Homo sapiens: one gene and its partner. The protein of the gene in region 2 purifies or fractionates together with the protein of the main gene of each other region. This does not show direct contact. Each region holds a gene or a part of one and is shown on either strand. Other genes may lie near its edges.

Region 1 (5,492 bases), on a different chromosome or scaffold from region 2:
CCCAAGAGCCCCTTTGCTTCTTGCTGGGGGACCAGGGCTGTGGTGCTGGCCCACTTTCCCTCGGCCAGGAATCCAGGTCCTTGGGGCCCAGGGGTCTTGTCTTGTTTCATTTTTAGCACTTCTCACCAGAGAGATGACAGCACAAGAGTTGCTTCTGGGATAGAAATGTTTAGGAGTAAGAACAAAGCTGGGATACGGTGATTGCTAGTTGTGACTGAAGATTCAACACAGAAAAGAAAGTTTATACGGCTTTTTTGCTGGTCAGCAGTTTGTCCCACTGCTTTCTCTAGTCTCTATCCCATAGCGTGTTCCCTTTAAAAAAAAAAAAAAGGTATTATATGTAGGAGTTTTCTTTTAATTTATTTTGTGATAAATTACCAGTTTCAATCACTGTAGAAAAGCCCCATTATGAATTTAAATTTCAAGGAAAGGGTGTGTGTGTGTGTATGTGTGGGGTGTGTGTGTGTGAGAGTGATGGGACAGTTCTTGATTTTTTGGGTTTTTTTTCCCCCAAACATTTATCTACCTCACTCTTATTTTTTATATGTGTATATAGACAAAAGAATACATCTCACCTTTCTCAGCACCTGACAATAGGCCGTTGATACTGGTAACCTCATCCACGCCACAGGCGCCACACCCAGGTGATGCAGGGGGAAGCCAGGCTGTATTCCGGGGTCAAAGCAACACTAACTCACCTCTCTGCTCATTTCAGACAGCTTGCCTTTTTCTGAGATGTCCTGTTTTGTGTTGCTTTTTTTGTTTTGTTTTCTATCTTGGTTTCCACCAAGGTGTTAGATTTCTCCTCCTCCTAGCCAGGTGGCCCTGTGAGGCCAACGAGGGCACCAGAGCACACCTGGGGGAGCCACCAGGCTGTCCCTGGCTGGTTGTCTTTGGAACAAACTGCTTCTGTGCAGATGGAATGACCAACACATTTCGTCCTTAAGAGAGCAGTGGTTCCTCAGGTTCTGAGGAGAGGAAGGTGTCCAGGCAGCACCATCTCTGTGCGAATCCCCAGGGTAAAGGCGTGGGGCATTGGGTTTGCTCCCCTTGCTGCTGCTCCATCCCTGCAGGAGGCTCGCGCTGAGGCAGGACCGTGCGGCCATGGCTGCTGCATTCATTGAGCACAAAGGTGCAGCTGCAGCAGCAGCTGGAGAGCAAGAGTCACCCAGCCTGTGCGCCAGAATGCAGAGGCTCCTGACCTCACAGCCAGTCCCTGATAGAACACACGCAGGAGCAGAGTCCCCTCCCCCTCCAGGCTGCCCTCTCAACTTCTCCCTCACCTCCTTCCCTAGGGGTAGACAGAGATGTACCAAACCTTCCGGCTGGAAAGCCCAGTGGCCGGCGCCGAGGCTCGTGGCGTCACGCCCCCCCCGCCAGGGCTGTACCTCCGTCTCCCTGGTCCTGCTGCTCACAGGACAGACGGCTCGCTCCCCTCTTCCAGCAGCTGCTCTTACAGGCACTGATGATTTCGCTGGGAAGTGTGGCGGGCAGCTTTGCCTAAGCGTGGATGGCTCCTCGGCAATTCCAGCCTAAGTGAAGGCGCTCAGGAGCCTCCTGCTGGAACGCGACCCATCTCTCCCAGGACCCCGGGGATCTTAAGGTCATTGAGAAATACTGTTGGATCAGGGTTTTGTTCTTCCACACTGTAGGTGACCCCTTGGAATAACGGCCTCTCCTCTCGTGCACATACCTACCGGTTTCCACAACTGGATTTCTACAGATCATTCAGCTGGTTATAAGGGTTTTGTTTAAACTGTCCGAGTTACTGATGTCATTTTGTTTTTGTTTTATGTAGGTAGCTTTTAAGTAGAAAACACTAACAGTGTAGTGCCCATCATAGCAAATGCTTCAGAAACACCTCAATAAAAGAGAAAACTTGGCTTGTGTGATGGTGCAGTCACTTTACTGGACCAACCCACCCACCTTGACTATACCAAGGCATCATCTATCCACAGTTCTAGCCTAACTTCATGCTGATTTCTCTGCCTCTTGATTTTTCTCTGTGTGTTCCAAATAATCTTAAGCTGAGTTGTGGCATTTTCCATGCAACCTCCTTCTGCCAGCAGCTCACACTGCTTGAAGTCATATGAACCACTGAGGCACATCATGGAATTGATGTGAGCATTAAGACGTTCTCCCACACAGCCCTTCCCTGAGGCAGCAGGAGCTGGTGTGTACTGGAGACACTGTTGAACTTGATCAAGACCCAGACCACCCCAGGTCTCCTTCGTGGGATGTCATGACGTTTGACATACCTTTGGAACGAGCCTCCTCCTTGGAAGATGGAAGACCGTGTTCGTGGCCGACCTGGCCTCTCCTGGCCTGTTTCTTAAGATGCGGAGTCACATTTCAATGGTACGAAAAGTGGCTTCGTAAAATAGAAGAGCAGTCACTGTGGAACTACCAAATGGCGAGATGCTCGGTGCACATTGGGGTGCTTTGGGATAAAAGATTTATGAGCCAACTATTCTCTGGCACCAGATTCTAGGCCAGTTTGTTCCACTGAAGCTTTTCCCACAGCAGTCCACCTCTGCAGGCTGGCAGCCGAATGGCTTGCCAGTGGCTCTGTGGCAAGATCACACTGAGATCGATGGGTGAGAAGGCTAGGATGCTTGTCTAGTGTTCTTAGCTGTCACGTTGGCTCCTTCCAGGGTGGCCAGACGGTGTTGGCCACTCCCTTCTAAAACACAGGCGCCCTCCTGGTGACAGTGACCCGCCGTGGTATGCCTTGGCCCATTCCAGCAGTCCCAGTTATGCATTTCAAGTTTGGGGTTTGTTCTTTTCGTTAATGTTCCTCTGTGTTGTCAGCTGTCTTCATTTCCTGGGCTAAGCAGCATTGGGAGATGTGGACCAGAGATCCACTCCTTAAGAACCAGTGGCGAAAGACACTTTCTTTCTTCACTCTGAAGTAGCTGGTGGTACAAATGAGAACTTCAAGAGAGGATGTTATTTAGACTGAACCTCTGTTGCCAGAGATGCTGAAGATACAGACCTTGGACAGGTCAGAGGGTTTCATTTTTGGCCTTCATCTTAGATGACTGGTTGCGTCATTTGGAGAAGTGAGTGCTCCTTGATGGTGGAATGACCGGGTGGTGGGTACAGAACCATTGTCACAGGGATCCTGGCACAGAGAAGAGTTACGAGCAGCAGGGTGCAGGGCTTGGAAGGAATGTGGGCAAGGTTTTGAACTTGATTGTTCTTGAAGCTATCAGACCACATCGAGGCTCAGCAGTCATCCGTGGGCATTTGGTTTCAACAAAGAAACCTAACATCCTACTCTGGAAACTGATCTCGGAGTTAAGGCGAATTGTTCAAGAACACAAACTACATCGCACTCGTCAGTTGTCAGTTCTGGGGCATGACTTTAGCGTTTTGTTTCTGCGAGAACATAACGATCACTCATTTTTATGTCCCACGTGTGTGTGTCCGCATCTTTCTGGTCAACATTGTTTTAACTAGTCACTCATTAGCGTTTTCAATAGGGCTCTTAAGTCCAGTAGATTACGGGTAGTCAGTTGACGAAGATCTGGTTTACAAGAACTAATTAAATGTTTCATTGCATTTTTGTAAGAACAGAATAATTTTATAAAATGTTTGTAGTTTATAATTGCCGAAAATAATTTAAAGACACTTTTTTTTTCTCTGTGTGTGCAAATGTGTGTTTGTGATCCATTTTTTTTTTTTTTTTTTAGGACACCTGTTTACTAGCTAGCTTTACAATATGCCAAAAAAGGATTTCTCCCTGACCCCATCCGTGGTTCACCCTCTTTTCCCCCCATGCTTTTTGCCCTAGTTTATAACAAAGGAATGATGATGATTTAAAAAGTAGTTCTGTATCTTCAGTATCTTGGTCTTCCAGAACCCTCTGGTTGGGAAGGGGATCATTTTTTACTGGTCATTTCCCTTTGGAGTGTAGCTACTTTAACAGATGGAAAGAACCTCATTGGCCATGGAAACAGCCGAGGTGTTGGAGCCCAGCAGTGCATGGCACCGTTCGGCATCTGGCTTGATTGGTCTGGCTGCCGTCATTGTCAGCACAGTGCCATGGACATGGGAAGACTTGACTGCACAGCCAATGGTTTTCATGATGATTACAGCATACACAGTGATCACATAAACGATGACAGCTATGGGGCACACAGGCCATTTGCTTACATGCCTCGTATCATGACTGATTACTGCTTTGTTAGAACACAGAAGAGACCCTATTTTATTTAAGGCAGAACCCCGAAGATACGTATTTCCAATACAGAAAAGAATTTTTAATAAAAACTATAACATACACAAAAATTGGTTTTAAAGTTGACTCCACTTCCTCTAACTCCAGTGGATTGTTGGCCATGTCTCCCCAACTCCACAATATCTCTATCATGGGAAACACCTGGGGTTTTTGCGCTACATAGGAGAAAGATCTGGAAACTATTTGGGTTTTGTTTTCAACTTTTCATTTGGATGTTTGGCGTTGCACACACACATCCACCGGTGGAAGAGACGCCCGGTGAAAACACCTGTCTGCTTTCTAAGCCAGTGAGGTTGAGGTGAGAGGTTTGCCAGAGTTTGTCTACCTCTGGGTATCCCTTTGTCTGGGATAAAAAAAATCAAACCAGAAGGCGGGATGGAATGGATGCACCGCAAATAATGCATTTTCTGAGTTTTCTTGTTAAAAAAAAATTTTTTTAAGTAAGAAAAAAAAAGGTAATAACATGGCCAATTTGTTACATAAAATGACTTTCTGTGTATAAATTATTCCTAAAAAATCCTGTTTATATAAAAAATCAGTAGATGAAAAAAATTTCAAAATGTTTTTGTATATTCTGTTGTAAGAATTTATTCCTGTTATTGCGATATACTCTGGATTCTTTACATAATGGAAAAAAGAAACTGTCTATTTTGAATGGCTGAAGCTAAGGCAACGTTAGTTTCTCTTACTCTGCTTTTTTCTAGTAAAGTACTACATGGTTTAAGTTAAATAAAATAATTCTGTATGCATTTCTGTCTCTGGTTTGGTTTTGTCCCTCCTGGAAGCATCACTACACTTTGGTGGCAGGGAAGCTGAGCTATGTGGGGCACGTGTGTTCACGCATGTTGCCTGGAAGCGTTCTCCAGAAAAGCATTGCCTCTTCTCTGACAGCTGAGCTTTCTCAGCATGCAGATTGCCAGTAAAGACGACAGGGAAGCTATCTGTTTCTCCCTCCATTAAATCATCTGGAAAGAAATTTGAATACATAAATTACGAAACTCTGTACTGCAGTTCCGACTGATTTGTAGACTTTTTTCCTATACCTTCCACTAACAACAGTCAGGCCAAGGCAAGTCTGATCTGCATGACCCCAAGGCAGAGGACTTCAGTTCTTCACATTTCCCATGTGCTTTTTGGTCTTTCACAGCTGACATGCCCACCTCGGGGGGATGCTGGTGAGAACCCAGTGGGCCTCACGCAGAATGTGGGTCACTGGAGGAGCTCCAAAGTCCTAGTTACTTTCTAGCTG
Region 2 (7,959 bases):
GCCTGCCATCATGCCTGGCTAATTTTTTTTTTGAAACGGAGTCTCACTCTGTCGCCCAGGCTGGAGTGCAGTGGTGCGATCTCGGCTCACTGCGACCTCTGCCTCCCGGGTTCACGCCATTCTCCTGCCTCAGCCTCCCGAGTAGCTGGGACTACAGGCACCCACCACCACGCCCGGCGAATTTTGGTATTTTTAGTAGAGATGGGGTTTCACTGTGTTAGTCAGGATGGTCTCAATCTCCCGACCTCGTGATCCACCTGTCTCAGCCTCCCAAAGTGCTGGGATTACAGGCGTGAGCCACCACGCCCGGCCGCTAATTTTTATATTTTTAGTATAGATGGGGTTTCCCCATGTTGGCCAGGCTGATCTCAAACTCCTGACCTCTAGTGATCCGCCCGCCTCAGCCTCCCAGAAGGCTGGGATTACAGGCTTGAGTCACTGTGTCTGGCCTGTATTTTGTATTTTTTTAGTAGAGACGAGGTTTCCCCATGTTAGCCAGGCTGATCTCCAACTTCTGACCTCAGGTGATCCACCCGCCTCAGCCTCCCAAAGTGCTGGGATTACAGGCGTGAGCCACCGTGCCCGGCCTTAGGTTGCAGTGAGCTGAGATTGAGCCACTGCACTCCAGCCTGGGTGACAGAGCAAGACTTTGTCTCAAAAAATAAATAAATAAATAAATTAATTAAATTAAATAAAACCACCCAGTGATGGAGCTCCTAATATCTCTGTTTTACAGGTGAGGAAACTGAGGCAGAGAGAGGTCAAGTGTTTCAAGGTCACAGAGGGAGTAAATGGTGGGAATTAATAGAAACCAAGGCAGTCTGGCTCCGAGTCCATCCTCTCGATCAATATTACACTATCTGTCTCTGCAGTTGGCATAAATAGTTTGTTGAATTGAAGGTTATTTGCTTTCCAGTTGCTGAAACAATTTAAGCCTGGACTCCACCCATTGCTGGGAGGGTAAGGAAGTGTTTGGCAACCCCAGTGATCTGGCCAATTGTGGGCCTGTTCTTTGAAGCACCACCTTACTCCTTCCAATCCACTCTGCCTCAGCAGTGATCCCTGGAAAGGATCCTCAGATAGATAGCAGAAACGTGAAATCCTGCCAACTAGCCCATCCCTCTTCCAAGTCTACCACCCCATTCCCAGAGGACCCCAATGGGCAGGTTACCACAGTGTCTGGGTAAGACCTAACCATCTTTCCATCTGGTCTCCAGCTCTGACAGCTGGAGCATATAGGAGAGCAATGACCCTGGCCTTTGGCCCTACATGGTTTCTACCATAGGCCCAGTTTCTGCTACAACTTCACTTGCCCCTTCTTCCCAGAAAGCCAAGCTGTCCAAAGGTTGTAAGGCAAAGGGTATGGAGGGCCCCAGGTATTCCTAACCAATAAAAGAGAATACACATCGATATGGTAGCCGCTAGAATAAACACCCTATCTTTCATCCCAACTTGGGAGCTGAGTGCCGTGGCATCATCCAGGCTCTCCCTCCCCTTTGCTTCTGGTTTTCCTCTTTGTCCCAGGGTGTCCTCCCATTAGGAGCCCTGGCACAGGGCTGTGACAGCCACAATCAGTGGGCCAACTGGAGTGTGGTTCTGGGGCAATTGCCCTGGAGCAGCTGCAAGGCACTTGCCCTTTGGATCCTAACCCAGCCACCTCCTGCCAGGCTGGGGAGGAGCAGCGTGCATATACTAGGCTGGCCAAGGAGGCAGAGTGTGGGGATGACCAGGGAGGTGCCCAGTGGGAGCAGGGGTAGCTGAAGCAGATGTCCTTTCACACTTCCTGCTATTCGCTCCATTTCCTGTGGCCCAGAATTTCATGGGGGTGAGGGAAATTGTGCCAAGTTAGCAGTCTCCTTTGGTCCATCCGTCCCACTCCCTGAACCACATGACGGAAATCAGGGGCCTCCCACAAGTCAGCAACTTCCCCTTTCTCTGGGATGTTTAAACCCTGATCCAGGAGACGGATCATCTCTCTGATGATCTCTTTCTGATGCTCGTCTACTTGATGCTCAGAAACCCGGGTTCTCATACTCTATAGGTTGGAAGTGGGGTTGATATGATGTTTTGCAGAGCAAGCCAGAGCTCAGGACCAATTCCCTATTCCTGATACCCTCTGAGTTGAGGCCTACAGCCCCAACCTTTTCGTCTTTTGCTCCCGCTCCCCTGCGACTCAGGCATCCACCCCTTGCCCCTTGGGGGTGTTGAGTCACAACAGGAAGTGGATTTTGCTAGAGACCAAAAAAGAGAACTCGGGGTATCAGTGGAAGGAAAGAGCCTCGATTGCACAGAAAACATCCGGGGAGTGGACGCGCGCCCAGGGTGAATACTGCCTCCCCCACCCCCAGAGAGAGGGATACGATCTAGTTTCAGGGAGGGTCGCCACGCACTCGGCTCCCCCAAGATGAAGCTGTTGCTCCTGGCAACCCAAGGGAAGGTAGAAGTTTGGGTGAGGAGCCACCCGGCCCTCGGGACAGGTGTGGGCAGCGCGACTACCTGGGGGATATTGGATAGGAGGCTTTCCATTGGCTTGGCGCGAGTCTGGAGTGGATCCCCCCCGTCCCGGCATCCAGCCTCCCCGTACACGACCCCTCGGGGCCAGCCACCTGCTCCTCCTTCCTCCATCCCTGCATCGCAGCCTGCACGGGAGAGCCCAGTAGTCTGGCCCCACATCCCTGCGAGAACCCCGACACCGGTTTTTCTGATCCCCCTCAGGCCTCGCTTTCTGCAGGGGCCCGGGCATTTCCCCCCCACCCTCATTATCCTCGAGGACCTGCGCGTGCGGCCCCGGATGGCTGTCCCTAGGGACCCAGGCGTCCGGCCCCCAGATCCTCTCCGCTGCGCCCTCGTCTGGGACCGTCCCAGCCCCCGCCCCGAGCCGCCGCCCATGCCCCGCCGCGTGGCCCCACCTCCCTTACCTGGTCCCGGGTTTCTCCCCCATGGTGCGCGCGCCCGCCGCCCGCTCGGTTCGCGGCTCGCTCGCAGCCTCCTCGCCCGCTGCCAAGATCCCTGCTCCTCCCCGCGCCAATGCGCACGCGCGCCCTCCGCGCTCTCGCCTCTTCCCCCTCCCTCCCGGCCCCGCTCTGGTCTTGGGGAACCGGGGCCAGATGCGTCAGCCGGATCGCGCGCGCCGCGGCGCTGCCCGCCCTCTCCTAGCAGACACGCGGGGCCATTGGCTCCGCCCCCAGCCCTTCGCGCTCCTTCCCAGCCTGGTAGCCCTCCCCCGCGCGCGGGGCCAGCTCCCACTCCTCCCGCCCATCTCCCCGCCCCGCTGCAACCCCTTGAAACCGATTGGACCCCCCTAAACCAAGGCGCCCGCCTTCCAGGGGATCTAAGTCTTTCGATTGGCCTTCGGCATCCAGAACCTGCAGGGGTCTCCTCCCCTTTGTTTGCTTTCTCAGTGGCGGTGGGGGCGACCGGGCTGCTGGGGGCGGTGGAATGAGCTGAAGCGCCGTCTGGGAAGGAGGATGGTGGGGGGGAACACGTGGGTGAGCGGTTCAATTGCGTGATGCTTGCTTCAGTGCGCGCCGCTCACCTGCTCCACTCGGAGCGTGCCGCCTTCTGTGGCCAGCCCTCCCGCTTCTTCACTGCAGCGTGTCAGCTCCTCCTGGTGTTTGCATTTGATCTTCGCAGGGTTCCCTTTTCCAATGTCTCTGACTATCCATCTCCTTCACCCACCCATCCCAGCTAACATCCACTCACTCACCCGCTCCCATCCATCGGTCCATCTATGGACCCATCCATCCGTGCCTATGTTATGCTATTCACTATGCCAATCGATGGGGACACATACGAATTACCATGGCCCCTGCCTTCCTAGAATAGTTGAGGAGACACATACACAGGTATTACCCAGGAATGCTATTACAGAGGTCTGAGTCAGAAGACACAGCCGCTAACAGCAATTGGCCCGGGCGGGGGTGGAGGGAGTGCAGGCTGTCCAGAGCGGGGAACAGATGAGGACAGTCTTTCTGAAGGATGCGCAGAAGTTTTTTTTCTTTTTCTTGTTTTTTTTTTTTTTTTTGAGACAGAGTCTCACTCTGTCGCCGAGGCTGGAGTGCAGTGGTGAGAGGTGACAGCGTGCTGGCAGCTCTCACTCACTCTCGGCGCCTCCTCGGCCTTGGAACCCACTCTGGCCGCGCTTGAGGAGCCCTTCAGCCCGCCACTGCACTGTGGGAGTTCCTTTCTGGGCTGTCCAAGGCCGGAGCCGGTTCCCTCAGCTTGCGGGGAGGTGTGGAGGGAGAGGCGCGGGCGGGAACCCGGGCTGCGCGCGGTGCTTGCGGGCCAGCGCGAGTTCCGGGTGGGCGTGGGCTCGGCGGCTCCGCACTCGGAGTGGCCGGCCAGCCCCGGGCAGTGAGGGGCTTAGCACCTGGGCCAGCAGCTGCTGTGCTCAATTTTTCGCTGGGCCTTAGCTGCCTTCCCTCGGGGCAGGGCTCGGGACCTGCAGCCCGCCATGCCTGAGCCTCCCCTCCCCCTCCGTGGGCTCCTGTGCGGCCCGAGCCTCTCCGACGAGCACCGCCCCCTGCTCCAAGGCACCCAGTCCCATCGACCACCCAAGGGCTGAGGAGTGCAAGCACATGCGGACTGGCAGGCAGCTCCACCTGCGGCCCCCAAGCGGGATCCACTGGGTGAAGCCAAATGGGCTCCTGAGTCTGGTGGGGACTTGGAGAACCTTTATGTCTAGCTAAGGGATTGTAAATACACCAATCGGCACTCTGTATCTAGCTCAAGGTTTGTAAACACACCAATCAGCACCCTGTGTCTAGCTCAGGGTTTGTGAATGCACCAATCCACACTCTGTATCTAGCTACTCTGGTGGGGACTTGGAGAACCTTTGTGTCTACACTCTGTATCTAGCTAATCTAGTGGGGACGTGGAGAACTTTTGTGTCTAGCTCACGGATTGTAAATGCACCAATCAGCACCCTGCCAAAACAGACCAATCAGCTCTCTGTAAAATGGACCAATCGGCTCTCTGTAAAATGAACCAATCAGCAGGATGTGGGTGGGGCCGATTAGAGAATAAAAGCAGGCTGCCTGAACCGGCAATTGCAATGCACTGGGGTACTCTTCTGTTAGGTAGACCTTTTGTTCTTTTGTTTTTTGCGGTTAAATCTTGCTGCTGCTCCTTTTTTGGGTCTACACTGCCTTTATGAGCTGTAGTACTCGCTGGGAAGGTCTGCAGGTTCACTCCTGAAGCCAGTGAAACCACGAACCCACTAAGAAGAATGAATAACTTCGGAGACACGGCCTTAAGGGGGGTAACACCGCAAAGGCCTGCAGCTTCACTCTTGAGCTAGCGAGACCACGAACCCACCAGAAGGAAGAAACTCTGAACACATCCGAACGTCAGAAGGAACAAACTCCGGATATGCTGCCTTTAAGAACTGTAACACTTGCTGTGAGGGTCCATGGCTTCATTCTTAAAGTCAGTGAGACCCCCTACAAATTCTGGACACTGGTGTTGTGTCGGCTCACTGCAACTTCCATCTCCTGGGTTCCAGCTGTTCTGCCTCAGTCTCCCGGGTAGCTGGGATTACAGGTGTCCACTACCACGCCTCGCTAGTTTATATATATATATTTTAGTAGAGATGGGGTTTCAATATGTTGGCCGGGTTGCTCTTGAACTCCTGACCTCAAATGATCCGCCTGCTTGCGCCTTCCAAAGTGCTGGAATTATAGATGTGAGCCACTGCGCCCAGCCTCTTTTTTTTTTTCTTTTTTAGGAGATGGAGTCTCACTCTGTCACCCTGACTGGAGTGCAGTGGTGGGATCTCGGCTCAACAAAACCCCTGCCTCTTGGGTTCAAGCAATTCTGTGCCTCAGCCTCGTGAGTATCTGGTATTACAGACACCTGCAATGCCTGGCTACTTTTTGTATTTTTAATAGAGACGGGGTTTCACCATGTTGGCCAAGCTGGTCTCGAACGCCTGACCTTGTGTTCCACCTGCCTCAGCCTCCCAAAGTGCTGGAATTGCAGGTGTGAGCCACCGCGCCTGGCTGGGCAGAAGTTGAGAAAGGGCATTTCAAAGAGAGAGACAAGGCACGTCCTGTTGCGTAGTGTTGGTGGGGAAGTCTGGAACAGGCTGTGGAGGATTTTGTATAGCAGATGGAGTGAGATGGAGGGCCCCACAGAAGGACATGTGGAACCAGTACTGGTTTTTAAAGCAGAGGGGGTTGGGTGCAGTGGCTCACGCCTGTAATCCCAGTACTTTGGGAGGCCGAGGGGGGTGGATCACCTGAGGTCAGGAGTTCGAGACCAGTCTGGCTAACATCGTGAAATTTAGCCTATAATCCCAGCTACTCGTGAGGCTGAGCCAGAAGAATCACTTGAACCTGGGAGACGGAGGTTGCAGTGAGCTGAGATCGTGCCGTTATACTCCAGCCTGAGTGAGAATAGTGAAACTTCGTCTCAAAAACAAACGGGCCGCGCGTGGTGGCTCACGCCTGTAATCCCAGCACTTTGGGAGGCTGAGGTGGGCGGATCACGAGGTCAGGAGATCAAGACCATCCTGGCTAACGTGGTGAAACCCTGTCTCCACAAAAAAGTACAAAAAATTAGCCGGCATGGTGGCAGGCGCCTGTAGTCCCAGCTACTTGGGAGGCTGAGGCAGGAGAATGGCCTGAACCTGGGAGGCAGAGCTTGCAGTGAGCCAAGATCGCGCCACTGCACTCCAGCCTGGGTGACAGTGCGAAACTCCATCTCGAGGAAAAAAGAAAACAAAAAACCTCCGAAAAACGAAAAATGAGCCAAATATAGTGGCTAGTGCCTAGAGTCTCATGTACTAGGGAGGCTGAGGTGGGAGGATCGTTTGAGCTGGGAGGTCAAGGCTGCAGTGAGCTGTGATCATGCCACTGCACTCCAGCCTGGGGAAATATTTTTTCAGCACCTTTTATGTACCAGGCACTGTTCTAGGTGATAGGAATAGCATAGTGTAGGAGACAGGAGCCCTTTCATGGAGTTTGTATTTTAGACAAGAGATAGTTAATAAGAAAGCAAATTTCTGGTAATGACATGAATTATAAACAGGCAAATGTGATGGAGGCTGATGGGGGTTGGAGTGGGAGCTACCGAAAAAGAAGTCGTCTCAGGATGGCAAAATGGCGTTAGTTACATAGAATCAAAGGACAGTTTCTCCAGCATAATCAGCAACATGTGCAAAGGTTCGGATGTGAGAATGGGCTTTGCTGGAAAATAGAAGGCTAGCGTGGCTCAAGAATAGGAAGAGAGAAGGAAAAGGGTACTTGTGGTATGTGTTGAGGTCAGGGAGGTGGGTATGAGTCAGATTGGGTGGATTCTTTTAGGCCTCAGTGACGAGATGGGATTTCATTCTCATCACATTTGGAAGCCACAGAGGGGTTGAAGCTAGGAGTGACAACAACTTGTTTACATTTGAAAAGACCACTTTGGTTGCTGTGTGAAGGGACTACAGGGTGCTAAGAGGGAAGCAGAGAGCAACGAAGGCTTTGTAATAGACTAGGTGAGAGTGAATGGTAATTTGGACCGGAGCGGCAGTGGAGATGGAGAAAAATTAACGCTATTGGGTTAATGTATTTTGGAGGCCTTGAATGCCAGGACTTGAAGGATTGGATAGGAGGCAATAAGAGGAAAAACGGGCCAGGTGGGGTGGCTCACACCTGTAATCCCAGGACTTTGGGAGGCTGAGGCCGGCAGATCACTTGAGGTCAGGAGTTTGAGACCAGCCTGGCCAACATGGTGAAGCCCCGTCTCTACTAAAAATACAAAAATTAGCTGGGCATGGTGGTGGGTGCCTGTACTTCCAGCTACTTGGGAGGCTGAGGTAGGAGAATCACTTGAACTTGGGAGGCGGAGGTTGCAGTGAGCCGAGATCGTGCCATTGCACTCTAGCCTGGGCGACAGAGAGACTCCTCAAAAAAAGAAAAATGATGACTCTTGGATTTGAATCTAACAATCACAAAAGTACACAAACATAAACAT

Evidence for each region. Proteins that work in one complex are often made in the same cells at the same time.
Region 1: the proteins of ARRB2 (region 2) and IGF1R purify together in Homo sapiens (affinity purification with western blotting; 4 studies listed by BioGRID). This does not show direct contact.

Annotation. Positions count from the first base shown.
Region 1 is NC_000015.10:98,959,539-98,965,030, forward strand, and holds the end of IGF1R (insulin-like growth factor 1 receptor isoform 1 precursor), read left to right. Parts: 3' UTR 1-4,992; downstream 4,993-5,492. UniProt on the Homo sapiens protein: Receptor tyrosine kinase which mediates actions of insulin-like growth factor 1 (IGF1). Binds IGF1 with high affinity and IGF2 and insulin (INS) with a lower affinity. The activated IGF1R is involved in cell growth and survival control.
Region 2 is NC_000017.11:4,705,704-4,713,662, reverse strand, and holds the start of ARRB2 (beta-arrestin-2), read right to left. Parts: upstream 3,032-7,959; 5' UTR 2,942-3,031; coding exon 2,919-2,941; intron 2,905-2,918; exon of another isoform or gene 2,890-2,904; coding exon of another isoform or gene 2,774-2,889; intron 1-2,773. UniProt on the Homo sapiens protein: Functions in regulating agonist-mediated G-protein coupled receptor (GPCR) signaling by mediating both receptor desensitization and resensitization processes.